5 separate regions of the Homo sapiens genome follow, and regions 2, 3, 4 and 5 are each reported to be linked to region 1. The links are microRNA targets in miRTarBase. Many come from high-throughput screens and were not tested one by one. Region 1 holds a microRNA gene; each other region holds the end of a gene's coding sequence. Distances are from middle to middle.
The links. The annotated mature microRNA hsa-miR-6778-3p reads UGCCUCCCUGACAUUCCACAG and lies in region 1 at 1,909-1,929, opposite strand. An mRNA with a match to its seed (bases 2 to 7 or 8) in the 3' UTR can be bound and repressed. Matches are read on the target gene's strand: a 7mer-m8 pairs with bases 2 to 8, a 7mer-A1 pairs with bases 2 to 7 and ends in A, and an 8mer does both.

Region 1 (3,131 bases):
TGCGGAAAGCCGCAGGGTCCTCTGCCTAGGAAAACCAGAGACCCTTGTTCACTTGTTTATCTGCTGACCTTCCCTCCACTATTGTCCTATGACCCTGCCAAATCCCCCTCCACGAGAAACACCCAAGAATGATCAATAAATACTAAAAAAAAAAAAAAAAAAAAAAAAAAAAAAGAGTAATGTAGTCACCAGAGGGCTGGTGTCTCTGCTGATGCAAAGTTGGCGCATCAGGTCTCACCACAGGCTAAATGATGACCTGACCACTAACAGGCTTTCCCAGGTATGGGAATTCGAAAATAAGGGGAGTGCCTAGGGGTAGGTTATGAGGTAATGGAAAGAAAAACCTTCACTAAAATGATATTAATGTTTATACATCCATGTCTTCTAGTTTGACTACTATGAGTCTTTCTCTTTGAGAAACATGATGGATCACTGTAAGTTCACCAGAATAATGCAGCCTTGTGAGGCCTCCCAGTGGCCCCCAGCCAGCCATGCACCCTCCTTTCATTCAAACACCTGCCTCTCGAGTTCAGCAACCGGCGCCATCCTAACACATAGTGGTTGCTGATCCCCCTCCTATGTTCCTAGGACCTGGATGCACAAAAGTGAAGCAGGAGCTGTGGCTGACAGTCTCCTTCTGGGGATTCCTTTCTTTCTTTCTTTTTTTTTTTTTGAGACGGCATCTCGCTCTGTCGCCCAGGCTGGAGTACAGTGGCACAATCTCAGCTCACTGCAAGCTCCACCTCCCAGGCTCACGCCATTCTCCTGCCTTCGCCTCCTGAGTAGCTGGGACTACAGGTGCCCACCACCACACTCGGCTAATTTTTCGTGTTTTTAGTAGAGACGGGGTTTCACCGTGTTAGCCAGGATGGTCTTGATCTCCTGACCTCGTGATCTGCCCGCTTCGGCCTCCCAAAGTGCTGGGATTACAGGCGCGAGCCACCTCACCTGGCCGGGAATCCTTTCTGTAAAGCCTGTCACTGCTCCTTCCTAAGCAGCTCTTTAAGGGACTGGGATCTTAATATTTTCCAAGGATCCCAGGTCAGAGTTTTTCCCAGCTCCCTCAACTGAATCTGAACCCCCACAGGAGAAATGTAAACCATGGTACCCATCTGTACCCAACATTCGGGAGCTCACCTTTCCTGTAGAAGATCATGCCAGCTCGGCAGCCTCGCAGGGTCTTGTGAGTGGTGGTGGTCACCACATGGCAGTGTTCAAATGGGGAGGGCACCACGCCAGCCGCCACCAGCCCGCTGATGTGAGCCATGTCCGCCATGAGATACGCCCCGTTCTCATCTGCAATCTTCCGTAGCCGGGCATATTCCAGGTTTCGGGAGTAGCAGCTGGTTCCTGAGACAGGAAAGGTGACACAGCTGCATCAGAGATGTCCACCGGCCAGCTGAGTTGGCTTCACAGTGGCCTCTAGATGTGCAGATCTGAAAGCCCAGAGATTTCTTCCCTTAAAGTCTCAGAGCAAAAATGGAGAATGCCCTCAAAAAGCACCTCTGTGCTAAAGGCAACCACTCTAACTCTTCAACGTCTTGGTGGTTGAGATGGCCCCAACTACTATTGCCAGCGCAGTCAGGGCCTGACATTTCTAGATGCTTCTCTGAGAACAGTCTCACATCTTAATCTACATAGCACAAAAAGCAGCAAACACACATCTGTATCCTGAAAGAAACTAATATATGTAGACCCCAGAAACTCAGTTATCCAGGGCAGAAACTAGCAGTGGGCTCAACAGGGTGCGAACATCTTTCCATCCTCATTCTGTAAGAGGCACCAGGCTACTGGTGAACAAGGTGACTTTCCGCCCCGCGCATCACCTGCGATGATCAGCTTCGGGTGGAAGAGGCGTGCGTTCTCCTCCAGCTGGTCATAGTTGATGTAGCCAGTATCTGGGTTCACCTGTGGAATGTCAGGGAGGCAGGTTCAGGCTGCTTCCTCCAACCACACCTGCCTCCTGTCCTCCCACTTGAACTGGCTCCACCCACCATGACAAGAGGAATGATGTCCTAGATGAGGACTTGAGGGTGAGACAGGATGGATACTGGTGTGTTCAGCCTGCTCAACCAAGTATGGCTCACAGACCCAGGAGTCCCTGAGGAGTCCCAGGGTTGTAGTGAGCCCTGCTGCTGGGGCACTACCTGCTGAGAAGGAACCAAAAAGCACCTGCAGAATGAAACAAATGTGACGGGACCACACAATGGAAACCAAAATGGTTACCTTCAGGAACAAGACCAAAATGCCTGCTAATACTACTTCTATTCCAAGTATAATGAGGCAAGAAAAAGAAACAAAAGGCATAACGATTAGGAAAGAAGAAATTTAAAAACTGACATTACACACAGACAACACAATATACCTAGAAAATCAAGATGCTAGGGGCCAACTGTTAGAATAAGCAAATTTAGCAAGGTCACTGGATACAACATTGAAAAACAAGAAGTAGGGGCTGGGCGCGGTGGCTCACACCTGTAATCCCAGCACTTTGGGAGGCTGAGACGGGCAGATCATGAGGTCAGGAGATCGAGACCATCCTGGCTAACACGGTGAAACCCCGTCTCTACTAAAAATGCAAAAAATTAGCCAGATATGGTGGCGGGCGCCTGTAATCCCAGCTACTTGGGAGGCTGAGGCAGGAGAATGGCGTGAACCCGGGAGGTGGAGCTTGCAGTGAGCCGAGATTGTGCCACTGCACTCCAGCACTCCAGCCTGGGCAACAGAGCGAGACTCCATCTGAAAAAAAAAAAAAAAAAAAGCCAAAAAGTATATAAAAGCAAGAAAGATAGAAAATGAAATGTAAATAACAAAAACCATAAAAGGAAAATCATACCAAACCTTTACACAAAACATCATTGCGTTGTGTATTTTGTGTCACAAAATGCTTGACAAATTATAGTAATTAAGGCAGCACGCATTCATGGAAGGGCAGAGCATCTGGCTTAACCAGAAGCAGAACCACACACAACACAGGTCATTGGATCCATGCCAGTGGTGACGCTGCAGTGCAGTGGGGAGAGGATGACCTTTTCAATCAATGGCACTAGGTCAACTGGGCATCCATTTGGACAAAAATGTTATCTGGATGCCCGCCTCACCCACACAAATCAATTCCATATTCAGCAATC
Region 2 (3,131 bases), not on the chromosome of region 1:
GCTCACACCTGTAATCCCATCAAGGCAGGAGGATCACTTGAGGCCAGGAGTTCAACACTAGTGTGGGCTACAAAGCAAGACCCCCGTCTCTACAGAAAATTTGGTGCTGTGTACCTATAGTCCCAGCTACTCTGTAGGCGGAGGTGGGAGGATCGTTTGAGCCCAGGAGTTGGAGATGGCAGTGAGCCATGATCATCCCACTGTATTCCAGCCGGGGCAACAGAGCAAGACCCTGTCTCTAAAATAATAATAATAATAATAAATATTTACGAAGCACCTATTGTGTCAGGCACCTATTGTTCTAGATGCTGGGGAAACAACAGAGAACAGGACAGGCAACGGGTCAAAAGCCAATAAACAGGTAAATAAATAAGATCATTTTTGACAGTAATAATTGCTACAAGGAAACTCAACTGGCCGAAATGAATAGTGGGGGAATGTGAGCTACTTCAGATAGGGTGGTCAGGGAGGGGAAGTCCTCTCTGAGGGGATACGTGAGCTGAGATCTGACTGAGCCCGTCACAGGAAGGTTTGAGAGTAGAACAGGAAGTTGTGAGTAGAGCCTTGAAGGAAAGAGAACAGCAGGTGCATGGGTCCCCAGGCAGGACTCAAGGTAGCCACTCAGGCATCAGAAAGAGTCAGGCGGCCATGATGGCTCACACCTGTAATCCCAGCACTTTGGGAGTCTGAGTCGGGTGGATCACCTGAGGTCAGGAGTTCGAGACCAGCCTGACCAACAGGGTGAAATCCCTTCTCTACTAAACTACAAAAATTAGCCAGGTGTGGTGGCACATGCCTGTCATCTCAGCTACAGTCATCACATCCCTGTACTCCAGACTGGGTGACAAGGTGAGACTCCATTTCAAAAAAAAAAAGAAGGAAAGTCTATCAGGCTGGACAGGAGTGGGAAGGGGCAGTGAATGAGAATAGGCAAGGGCCAGACCCACAGGGCCTTACTGTGTGCTGTTGGGCCTCAAGCCTGCCCTCTCTGGACTTTGCTCTTTCTGTCTACGACAAAAGGGATTCTATCGCTTGGATTCTCAGATCCTCCTTTTCTGTTTTTGACACTGAAGAATTCTGTAACCTGCAACTTTTCCCCCACATGTGGCTAGCAGCCTAGAACATTCCAGGCACTGTGGTTTCTGCCTTTGCTTCATTCACTCCTGGCATATTCCCATGGTCTCAAGTGCCTGACCACCCATTTGGTGGGCCCCTGGCTCAATGCAGCACCCTCTATGTACATCAGAAAGCAGAGCCTCTTGGGGATACCCGAGGTGTCCATACAGAAGTGTTTGGACCAGTGCAGCAGTACAGCTGCTCTTCTGAAAAGGAAGGTGCACAAAACACCAAGGCCATAAAGGGTTATGGTTAAATACCAGGAGAAAAAGGCCAAAAAAAGATAGAAACTCCTAAAGAAAAGAGACAGAGAAACAGACTCCCCAGAGATCACCTGAATTGCTCAGCACCTAGAAGATGAAGGCAGTCATATCCCTTCCCAGTCACACTCACAGAGGCAGTTGCCGGGATCCCAATACAAGGTTTGGAGGAGCTGTCTCTGAGGTATGCTTTACTGCCCTTCCACACCCAAAAGACCTCATTCCTGGTCCCTGGCTACTCCCAGAGCCCACCATGCCCAGACCTCTTACCCACCTCACCTCATTTTTGTGGGACCACCCTCCCTACATGCTTTTGGAGGGCAATTATAGAAACCCATCCACTCCCCAGGAGAGATCAAGAAGTCTCCAGCTTTCTCGCACAAGCCCCCGATCCCTCCTCCAGATGCAGACCTCCCCTTACCCAATATTTAGGAACCAAGGTCCACAGCCATCTTAGAACCCCGGAAGTCTCAGACCCCAGGGGCCTCCGCCACCCCATCAAGATTCAAAGCCCACTGCTCCTTGGGGACCTGTGTGCAGGCTTTTTCTCCCAGAGAAATGTAGACCCTGTTTCCCTCTGAGGCTCTGAAGCCCAAGAGTTCCAGCTCCCTGGGGCGCTCAGGTCTCCCTCCCCTATACTGGAGTTCAGGTCCCAGTCATGGACACCTCCCCACCAATTAGGAAACAGGACTTCTACCAGCCTCCCTGGAGGACTAAACATCCAGTAACTCCAGTTTCTACTCCCTAGGAGACAAAGACATAGTCCCTGCTAGAGTCTGGGCCACCAACTCCCTTCAGGACAGAAGGGTCTAGATGTCATTCACCATGGTTCCCAAAGGTATCAGGATTCCTGGCCAGGGGCGGTGGCTCACGCCTGTAATCCTAGCACTTTGGGAGGCCGGAGCGGGTCGATCGCCTGAGGTCAGGAGTTCGAGGCCAGCCTGGCCAACATGGTGAAACCCCGTCTCTACTAAAAATACAAAAATTAGCCAGGTGTGGTGGCAGGCACCTGTAATCCCAGCTACTCCGGACGCTGAGGCAGGAGAATCGCTTGAACCCGGGAGGCGGAGGTTGCAGTGAGCCGAGGTCGCGCCATTGCACTCCAGCCTGGGCAACAAGAGACTTCGTCTCACAAAAAAAAGAAAAAAAAAAAAAAAAATCAGGATTCCTGTCCCCCAGACTCTCTGAATCCAGGTGATAAGAAGTCACACATCCCAGCTGGAAGTCAAGAGTCCACATCCCCTTCAAGCACCCAGGATTAAGCCCAGGCATCCCCTGTCAGAGTCTGGACTCCCAAGCCCCCTCCCACTCCTCACTGGGCAGGCTCAGGGGGTGCCAGCACAGCCTCAGCATCAGCCCGCATCTCATCGAGAGCCTGCAGCAGGACGCCGTGAGCCGCTCGGTAGCCCAGGCCACCTGTCGCCGCTGCACCACCCGCAGGCCACAGGAAGGAGAGAGCCCCCAGTGCTGCGCCCCCAGCAGTGCCCTCGCCCGCCCAGGCGCCCAGTCTTGCTTCCACCTCGGCGCGCGTCACCGGGCCTGGGAAATGAGCGCGCGCTGCCAGCTCTCCAGAAGCCAGGCCCAGGGCACGCTCACGTCGAGCCAGTGCCGTGGGTTCCAGCCCCAGGCCCCGTCGCCACTCCGCCAGCTGACCCCGCAGAAGTGCCACGTCGCATGCCCAGCCCAGCCCTGGGAGTGGTGCCGCCGCCGCCGCCAGACTAGCCAGCAGAGCTGGCCTCCACGCCCCGGCTCGCA
Region 3 (3,131 bases), 25 Mb from region 1:
CTGAGATGAACTAGTCCCATAGGAGAGGTTGGGATAGGGATATCTGATGATCCAGGGAGTGGTGGGTAGGGATTCCTTTCCTCTCAAGACTGGAACCTGGCATAAGGGAAAGGAGAAGCTATTTTTTATTTTTTATTTTTTAATTTTTTTTAGAGACAGGGTCTCACTCTGACACTCAGGCTGGAAGACAATGGCATGATCATAGCTCACTGCAGTCTCTAACTCCTGGCCTCAAGCGATCCTCCCAGCTTGGCCTCCCAAAGGAGGAATCTTGGCTGGGATTATAGGTGTGAGCCACTGCCGAGAAGCTATTATTTTAAATGACACACCTCAGAGCCAAATCTCCCAGCTCCAACACCACATCCAGATAACCATCTATCCAAAAAACAACTCTGATCACTTCACTCTCTGCCTGAAATTCCTGGTGGCTTCATCCTCTGAGGATGATTTCATTCATCCTCAGAATGAAATTCTGATTCCTCTGTGGACCCTGCAGTAGCCTCAGTGTACCTTCCTAGCCTTGTCTTCTATTCTCCCTGCCATGGGAGCCCCAACAGTGCTATGCTCATTCTCATCTCCACGTGTTTACACATGCTGTACCCTCTGCCCAGAGTGCCTTTCCTACCCCTTCCCTGCCCGGAAAACTCCTCTTCAACCCTCAGGACCTGGCTCACAGGACTGGCTTCTCAGGCTGCAAGGAGCTCCCATAGCATCCCATACATGTACAAATATCCCTCAGCCATGGCACCCTCACACCTGAGGTACCTCTCTTCCACACTGGGCTGGCCTCCAAAAGCTTAGAGACTGGTCCTTGCAATCTCCCAAGCCAGTGTATGCCACACAGTTGGTGTTCAGTACATACTTGCTGAATGAATGAATGAGGGAGGAATGGGCTATAAATTTGGGTGGGATCCCAGCAGATAGTTGGGTAAGGTCAGTGTTCTCTTCCAGTGTGTCTGGGAGAACTGGCTAGGGCTGGGGGAGGGAAGGGCCAGGGATGGTTCCTGGGGGAGAATGTCACCGAAAAGAGGCCAGTGGGACCAGAGCCAGGAAGGGAATACAGGACAATCTGAAACCAGACTCCCGAGAAAACAGACCAGTACTGTCTTTCCTGACAACAGGCGCTCAGCCGTCCTCTCCACCGTCTTTCCTTTAAGGGACAGGGTAGGGGTGACTCTAACAGCTGATGCTCCCCTGAAAGCCATCATGAAACTCAGCATGGGAGGAGAGAAAGGTCCCTGGCCTGAGCCTCTAAGGAGACCCCAGAATCAAACTACTGACCTCTTAGGAAACTTCACGCTGTACAGGGGTAGCTTCTGTGATGTGGAGGCTTTTGATGCCTTCTTTTTTTTTTTTTTTTTTTTTTTTGGAGACAGAGTCTTGCTCTGTCATCCAGGCTAGAATGCAGTGGCGCAATCTCGGCTCACTGCAAGCTCCGCCTCCCAGGTTCACCCGGGTTCACACCATTCTCCTGCCTCAGCCTCCCGAGCAGCTGGGACTACAGGCACTGCCACCGCGCCTGGCTAATTTTTTGTATTTTTAGTAGAGATGGGGTTTCACCGTGTTAGCCAGGATGGTCTCGATCTCCTGAACTTGTGATCCGCCCACCTCGGCCTCCCAAAGTGCTGGGATTACAGGCGTGAGCCAGCGCGCCCGGCCTGATGCCTCCTTATCCCCACAACCCCCAGGGTACCAGCAGGCTCCAAGCCAGGGGTACAGATGGTGAGCAGGACCCCTCCCACACTAGCAGCAGGCCTGGCTGGGCTGAGAAATGCTGACTAATTATATGTCGGTCTGCTCTAAAACCCCCTAATGGCCTGAGAATTGCCCACTTCATTAACTAGGATGAACAGTCCCAGGATGTCTCCTTCTCCCAACTCTGACTCCTAAAAGGACACTTCTGATCCAACCTATGGCTTTGTCCTCTGCTCTATCTGTGGACATGGACAGGAAAGTTCCCCAGCTGAGGTCTAACTTTCCCTCTTACTGCTAAAGATTGGTAGATTGATTTTTTTAAAAAGCAACAAAACTAAAGCCACAGCCGTTTTCCATGGAGGTGGGCTTTATTAGGTGACTGTTGAGGCAAGGGAGGTTCTAGGGCTGGTGGACTGATGGGGGGCAAGGGCTTCTCCTTGCTTTTGAATTTAGTGCATGTTGCCTAGAGGTTAGATGTGTGAGAATAGCTGCAGAAGTGAGAGGAGAGGAAAAGAGAAGGTCATAGAATGGACATTTTCCTTGGGCCAGAACCAGGATATGGGGACTGGGGGTGGAGAGGGAGGGTACTCTTCACATAGGAGACTCCACCAAGGTCACCATTTGATACCAGCTTCCCTAACGCCCACCTGCCCCATCCCAGTTCATGCCCCAGATGCCAGCCCTGTTAGCTCCCTCAACATCCACTGGAGAAGAGGAGGGAGGAGGAGATGAGAAACGATGATACCCTTCTGCCCTCCAGCTCCCCTGCCCAGAATTGCTCGCTCTGCCTGCCCTAACTTCCCAGCCAGGATCAGGAGGTCAGGAAGCCTGGGCGCAGGCAGGGGAACAATTGTGTCCCTCACCACCCCTCTTCACACTCTGCCCTCTCCTAGCCCCTCACATGAGGTTGCAGCTTTTGGCTCGATCCTTGTGTATCTCGCCCTCATTCCCCCGGTCTGGCCGTCCTGACAGCTGAGCGGATCGCTGCATTCCCCGGCGTGAGTCAGTTCGGCGCAGCTGCCTATGGCCACGGCCAAGGGAGGCCACTGTAGCCACATGGAAGACATCCCTGACGCTGCGCTCAGAGGACCGGGAGGAGCACTCAACATAGGACACAGCCCCCACCTGCTTGGCCAGCACAGTGCCCTGGAAAAGGAAGGAGTGCATGGGAGAAAGTTATAGGTCTTAGCCTGCAGCTTAGAAAGGGGCATGGAGGCTGTGGGCTGGGGTTGAATGTCAAGGCTGGGGGCAGTCAAGGGATCAGGTCAGAGGTCACAGACCAGAACAAAGGATGAGCCAGGTAAGGTGTTTTCAAATCAGAGACTGAAGGGGCAGAGGTGACAGGTCTAGGCTGGGATGAGGTCAGACGTCAAGGGTCCCACCTGCTCATGTGTAACAGGGATAAGCCTCTGCTTGGACAGCTCCCTCAGTGTGGC
Region 4 (3,131 bases), 10 Mb from region 1:
ACAAACCAGGTTGTTCATGAGCTCAATGAGTTGTGGCCAGACCTAAAGATTGTATCTGGTAAGTACCACCCTGGCCAAAGCCAGGGCTCCCTGGAAGGAGCAAGCCGTGATGTAAAGAACATGATAAGTACCTGGATGCAGAGTAACCACTCATGTCACTGGGCCAAAGGCCTCCGATTCATGCAGATGGTGAGGAATCAGGCTTTCGACGTTTCCTTGCAGCAAAGTCCATTTGAGGCAATGTTTGGCTATAAAGCCAAATTTGGGCTATATTCCTCAAACTTGCCCCGGGAAACTGTGGCTACTTTACAAACGGAAGAAGAGCTAGAAATTGCTGAAGAACAGCTAGAAAATAGCCTTTGGATCAGGCAGGAAGAAAGGGCTGAGATTGGAGCAGACAGATCTGATATGGACGATGACATGGATCCCACTCCTGAAGCTTCAGAACCCAGCACCTCACAAGGGACTTCCGGTCTCCTCTGCTGGTGAACAGATGGCTGCTGGGTGGACAGTCACAGGTGTCTCTCTGAGCATAGTCATCTGAGAACTGTTGCCAGAGGCCCCAGAGGAAAAGATTGAAGGCTGCACTCTCAGGTCAAGTTGTACATGGCAGTCCTTGCTCAAAAAGACAAAAGTTCAGGTCTGTGTATTTATTCTTAGGGCTGCCATAAAAAATTACCACAACCTGGCCGGGCGCAGCGCTCATGCCCGTAATCCCAGCACTTTGGTAGGCCAAGGTGGGCGGGTCACTTGAGATCAGGAGTTCAAGACTAGCCTGGCCAACATGATGAAACCCTGTCTCTACTGAAAATATAGAAATTAGCCAGGCTTGGAGCTGTGTGCCTGTAATCCCAGCTAACCAGGAGGCTGAGGCAGGAGAATCACTTGAACCCAGGAGGCAGAGGTTGCAGTGAGCCGAGACCATGCCACTGCACTCCGGCCTGGGTGACAAAGCAAGACTCTGTCTCAAAAAAAAAAAAAAAAAATTACCACCACATGGGTGACTTAACAGAAATTGAGTCTCACAGTTCTGGAGGCCCAAAGTCTGAAATTAAAGTGTTAGTAAGGTAGGTTCTTTCTGGAGGCTCTGGGGGAGAATCCATTCCATGCCTTTCTCCTTTCTCTAGTGGCCATCGGCAATCCTTGGCAGTCCTTGGCTTGTGACAGTGTAAGTCCAGTCTCTGCTTCTATCTTCATGTGGCCTTCTCCCCTGAGAAGGCCATAATTTTTTATGGCAGCCCTAAGAATAAATACACAGACCCGAACTTTTCCCTTATTAAGCAAGGACTACCATATACAACTTGACTTGAAATACACAGGAATACCTGTGTGTATTCTTTCCTGTCTCTTGTAAAGACATCACTGGACACCAAATCCATGTCACTGGATTTAGGGCCCACTCTAATGAGGATGATCTCATCTCGAGATCCTTACCTTAATTAGATCAGCGAATACTCTTTCCAAGTAAGGTGACATTCACAGGTACTAGGGACCTGAACTTGAACTTATTTATTTATTTTTTTTTTCATTTTTTTAGAGATAGGGTCTCCTTATATTGCCCAGGCTGGTCTCAAACTCCTGGGCCCAAGGGATTGGCCTCCCAAAGTGCTAGGATTACAGGCACACGCCACCACACCCAACCAGGACTTTTTTTTTTTTTTTTTTGCTCTTAACTTTTTTTTTTTTTTTTTAATTGATCATTCTTGGGTGTTTCTTGCAGAGGGGGATTTGGCAGGGTCACAGGACAATAGTGGAGGGAAGGTCAGCAGATAAACAATGGATTAAGGGCGGTGCAAGATGTGCTTTGTTAAACAGATGCTTGAAGGCAGCATGCTCCTTAAGAGTCATCACCACTCCCTAATCTCAAGTACCCAGGGACACAAACACTGCGGAAGGCCGCAGGGTCCTCTGCCTAGGAAAACCAGAGACCTTTGTTCACTTGTTTTTTTTTTTTTTTTTTGAGACAGGGTCTCGCTCTGTCACTGAGGCTGGAGTGCAGTGGCACAATCTGGGCTCACTGCAGCCTCTGCCTCCCCAGTTCAAGCAATTCTCCTGCCTCAGCCTCCCCAGTAGCTGGGACTACAGGCGTGCACTGCCACACCTGGCTAATTTTTTTTTTTTTTGGAGACAGAATCTCACTCTGTCGCCCAGGCTGGAGTGCAGTGGCATGATCTGGGCTCACTGCAGCCTCCGCCTCCCAGGTTTAAGCGATTCTCCTGCCTCAGCCTCCTGAGTAGCTGGGACTACAGGCACGCACCCCCACGAACCCAGCTAATTTTTGTATTTTTAGTAGAGACGGGGTTTCACTATGTTAGCCAGGATGGTCTCGATCTCCTGACCTCGTGATCCACCTGCCTCTGCCTCCCAAAGTGCTGGGATTACAGGCGTGAGCCACCACGCGCGGCCAGACTTACCTTTTTAAGAGACACACTTCTCATTGTAGTCAATAGAAGTATATGTCTGCAAAACAAGAACTGATGGATGAGGTCTCAAGAATGTAAAGCTGGTGGGACTGCCCTAGATATATCTAATACATATTCCTGCCCCTCAGACACATACTCTAAAACATGGAGGCATCACAGGAAAATAAGTAGATGAAGGAAGGCTGGGCACGGTGGCTCATGCCTGTAATCCCAGCACTTTGGAGGCTTAGGCGGCCGATCACTTGAGGTCAGGGGTTCGAGACCCGCCTGGCCAACATGGTGAAACCCCGTCTTTACAAAAATGCAAAGTATTAGCCGGGCACGGTGGCATGCACCTGTAATCCTGGCTACTCAGGAGCCTGAGGTAGGAAGATCCCTTGAACCTAGGAGGCAGAGGTTGCAGTGAGCCGAGATCATGCCACTGCACTCCAGCCTGGGCGACAGAGCAAGGCTCTATCTCAGAAAAAAAAAAAGTAGATGAAGGAAAAGTAATAGGAAGAAACAAGGTTCATCTAAGATGCCCTAGAGACTGGCCACCTTACCAACTGGGCTCTGTTTCCCGCTTCAGGAGAAACTGTATGTGCCATCCCTTTTCTCAGAGCATTATGCACAGATAATTGTGTAACTGCATGAAACATATATTAAAATTAGGTCAGAAGTAAAGTATGGTTGGAATTTGGGTATGCGTCTGCCACTTGTCTGTGTCTC
Region 5 (3,131 bases), not on the chromosome of region 1:
TTAAGTGGTCTTACCTTTATTCAACAAATACATACTGGCTGCCTACTATGTGCTAGGCATTGACTGCTCTAGTGAACAAGACAAAAATCTCTGTCCTTAAGGAGCCTGTTATAGGACGTGTGTATCCATCACCTCCCATACCCCTCCAACAACCCTAAGTATCAGGTTCTTAGGGTTCCCCCTCTGCAGGTGAAGAAGTTGAGGTTTCAGCAGGAAGAGTACCTGGCCCAGCTGAAAGGGGCGGAGCTGGGGTTTGAGCCTCAGCATTCCGGCTCCAGAGACTGCACTCTTCATCAGCCTCCTGGCATATAGGACCTCGAGTGTGGCCTGACCCTGCATCTGGGGAAACCAGTGGGCAGGCTGGAGTGAGTCATGCCAGCCCGTCAGCCAGCCCAGGCGAGAGTGTAGATCTAGGGTTTGCAGTACCCTGTGTGCAGCAAGGACAGTAAACAGACCAACCAACAGTTGAAAGTGGGAGTGAGCAAACTCTGTGTCCCGCGGTTCACTTTAGTCCGACAGCAGGGCCAAGATCACGTGAGGAAGGAGGCAGGTGGGGCTGAGGAGGGGTAAGGATGGATGCTTCCTCCAACCCATCTCCTCTCTCTCTTGCAGGGACGAGGCCAGCAGCTCTGGCTGCTCAGAAACAGACTCCACAGAGCTGGCTAGCATCCTCTAGGGCCCGCCACGTTGCCCGAAGCCACCATGCAGAAGGCCACAGAAGGGATCAGGACCTGTCTGCCGGCTTGCTGAGCAGCTGGACTGCAGGTGCTAGGAAGGGAACTGAAGACTCAAGGAGGTGGCCCAGGACACTTGCTGTGCTCACTGTGGGGCCGGCTGCTCTGTGGCCTCCTGCCTCCCCTCTGCCTGCCTGTGGGGCCAAGCCCTGGGGCTGCCACTGTGAATATGCCAAGGACTGATCGGGCCTAGCCCGGAACACTAATGTAGAAACCTTTTTTTTTACAGAGCCTAATTAATAACTTAATGACTGTGTACATAGCAATGTGTGTGTATGTATATGTCTGTGAGCTATTAATGTTATTAATTTTCATAAAAGCTGGAAAGCAGCTGCCTGTTTCTGTCTGTGTCCTCAGCCACTCACTGAGCCCTTCTGCCTTAAGACTCCGTTAGAGAACACACTGAGCCCCAGGTGCTACTGGGTGGGGGCGAACATGTCTGGAGTTGTGGCTGGAGTGCAGTGGCGCAATCTCGGCTCAGGCAATCCTTCCTTCTGCTTCACCCTCTCGAGTAGCTGGGACTACAGGCATGCACCACCACGCCTGGCTGATTTTTAAATTTTTTTGTAGAGATGGAGGTTTCACTATGTTGCCCAGGCCAATCCTTCTCACTGGACTCAAGCAATCCTCCTGCATTAGCCTCCCAAAGTAGTGGGATTACAGGTGTGAACCACTACACCTGGCCTCTTGCTAAGTCAAGACTGTTCTTATTTGAAAGATAAGAACACCCTAGTGTAGAGAGGGATTTAGCTAAAGTCACGCAGCCTTTAGTGACCTAACTGGAATTTTATCCCAACTCTGTAAGACTCCAATACCGTAATCGCCACTGTCTACTTCCTTGTGTCTGAGAATGACCAGGGGACCGGCAGACAGATGCTTGCTCTGGGTGTGCCTGTACACTGTGCTTCCTGCCTGGTGCATGCCTGAGCCTGCAGGGCTGGTGGGGCTGGAGGCCTGTGGGGTCCCTGGAGACTGGTGGTTCTTTCTCCACAACTGTTACTGATGGTATTGAAAGGTGAGAATGTACCTGCTGGATGTGTGTATCAGATGAGGGAGGATTTTACCACAGACGCACTGGTGACAAAAAAAAACCAAACACCTCCGGTAGGGAACAGGGTGGTGGGGAAGGCCTAGTTGGGAGCACTTGGCTAACTTCCATGGTATGAATAACTCCCACCATAGCCAATTTCAAGTTATCCATGGTTGTTCATTTGAACATTTCCTAAACATTTAGTAGTTGGCTTTTACAAGCTGGTAGGAGCTTGCCTAACACACCACTGGGTCTCACACTTAGGCCAAGCCCCCAAAATCACAAGAAGGCAAAGCTGGCAGGATCAGGAGCTACTAGTCAAATCTCCTGATTTTATAAATAGATAAATGAGGCCCAGACAAGAGAGGCTCTTAGGCTATTCTGGCTTGGTTCTTACCTTGAGTGTGGGGCTCCGTTTTGGGTGGGAGGGAGGTCCACCATTTTTACTGATGAAGTTCTGCCAGGTTACTTTGATAAATTACATTAAGCGTTACTAACAGGCATGGTTACATGTGTGTAATAAGTATGAATTCAGTTAGTCTTCAGATAGTTGTCAGAACTTCCCTATGAGGAAGGTATTATTGTCATCCTCACGTTAAGAGATAAGGAAACTGACGCAGGGAAAAGTTAAGTAACCTGCTCAAGGTCATTGGACAGTCACTGGAAGAGCTGATACTTGAATCGAGGTTGGCTATAGTGCCTGGGCTCTTAACCACTACTTAAGGCTGTTAGGTGAACCAATGGTTTTGTCAACACCAAGGCAAGTCACACACTGTCTTTGTATCAGCCATCTCATGTCAGGCTGTCTGGGCAAGGCAGGAGCCTAGAGTCTGTTATGGCCTCTGGAGCTGGCCTGCTCAGAGACTCTGAGATAATGTTTATAGAAGCCCACTTATACCTCCTCTCTCCCTCCACTCTAACCAGTAACCACCAAGTCCTGTCTTTAAAAAAAAAAAAAAATTAAAGTTTTCAGCTGGGCGCAGTGGCTCACGCCTGTAATCCCAGCACTTTGGGAGGCCGAGGCGGGCAGATCACCTGAGGTCAGGAGTTCGAGACCAGCCTGGCCAACATGGTGAAACCCCGTCTCTACTAAAAATACAAAAATTAGCCAGGTGTGGTGGTGCATGCCTGTAATCTCAGCTACTCAGGAGGCGGAGGCAGGAGAATCGCTTGAACCCAGGAGGCAGCAGTTGCAGTGAGCTGAGATCGCGCCATTGCACTCCAGCCTGGGGGACAGAGAGAACCAGTCTCAAAACAGAAACAAACCAAAAACCAACAAACAAAAACAAAACTAGCCAGGCGTGGTAGCACATGCCTGTAATCCCAGCTACTTGGGAGGCTGAGGGCAGGAGAATGGCTTGAACCTG

Region 2: the mRNA of IRGQ is a reported target of hsa-miR-6778-3p. Seed matches in the 3' UTR shown: 7mer-m8 at 2,076-2,082.
Region 3: the mRNA of RND2 is a reported target of hsa-miR-6778-3p. Seed matches in the 3' UTR shown: 7mer-A1 at 1,663-1,669, 7mer-m8 at 1,613-1,619, 7mer-m8 at 1,480-1,486, 7mer-m8 at 1,438-1,444 and 7mer-m8 at 253-259.
Region 4: miRTarBase lists KRABD2 as a target of hsa-miR-6778-3p. Seed matches in the 3' UTR shown: 7mer-A1 at 895-901, 7mer-A1 at 2,570-2,576 and 7mer-A1 at 2,810-2,816.
Region 5: miRTarBase lists MFSD2A as a target of hsa-miR-6778-3p. The part of its 3' UTR that is shown has no 7-base or 8-base seed match.

What each region holds. Positions count from the first base shown.
Region 1 is chr17:18,338,906-18,342,036 of GRCh38, forward strand. It overlaps MIR6778 (microRNA 6778), which reads right to left and starts at 1,981; the gene lies at 1,909-1,981. It overlaps SHMT1 (serine hydroxymethyltransferase 1), which reads right to left. Exons shown (of 12, transcript NM_004169.5): 6 at 1,827-1,908; 7 at 1,138-1,350.
Region 2 is chr19:43,589,338-43,592,468 of GRCh38, forward strand. IRGQ (immunity related GTPase Q) reads right to left here. Exons shown (of 3, transcript NM_001007561.3): 3 at 1-3,131. The coding sequence ends at 2,689. Among named protein-coding and RNA genes, the nearest start is that of IRGQ, 5.2 kb to the right of the region's middle. RefSeq lists an enhancer at 397-486.
Region 3 is chr17:43,028,142-43,031,272 of GRCh38, reverse strand. RND2 (Rho family GTPase 2) reads right to left here. Exons shown (of 5, transcript NM_005440.5): 4 at 3,078-3,131; 5 at 1-2,841. The coding sequence ends at 2,593. Among named protein-coding and RNA genes, the nearest start is that of RND2, 4.5 kb to the right of the region's middle.
Region 4 is chr17:8,366,492-8,369,622 of GRCh38, reverse strand. It overlaps KRABD2 (KRAB domain containing 2), which reads left to right. Exons shown (of 2, transcript NM_001304947.3): 2 at 1-3,131. The coding sequence ends at 489. Among named protein-coding and RNA genes, the nearest start is that of KRABD2, 8.6 kb to the left of the region's middle.
Region 5 is chr1:39,968,893-39,972,023 of GRCh38, forward strand. MFSD2A (MFSD2 lysolipid transporter A, lysophospholipid) reads left to right here. Exons shown (of 14, transcript NM_032793.5): 14 at 613-1,064. The coding sequence ends at 676. Among named protein-coding and RNA genes, the nearest start is that of MFSD2A, 15 kb to the left of the region's middle.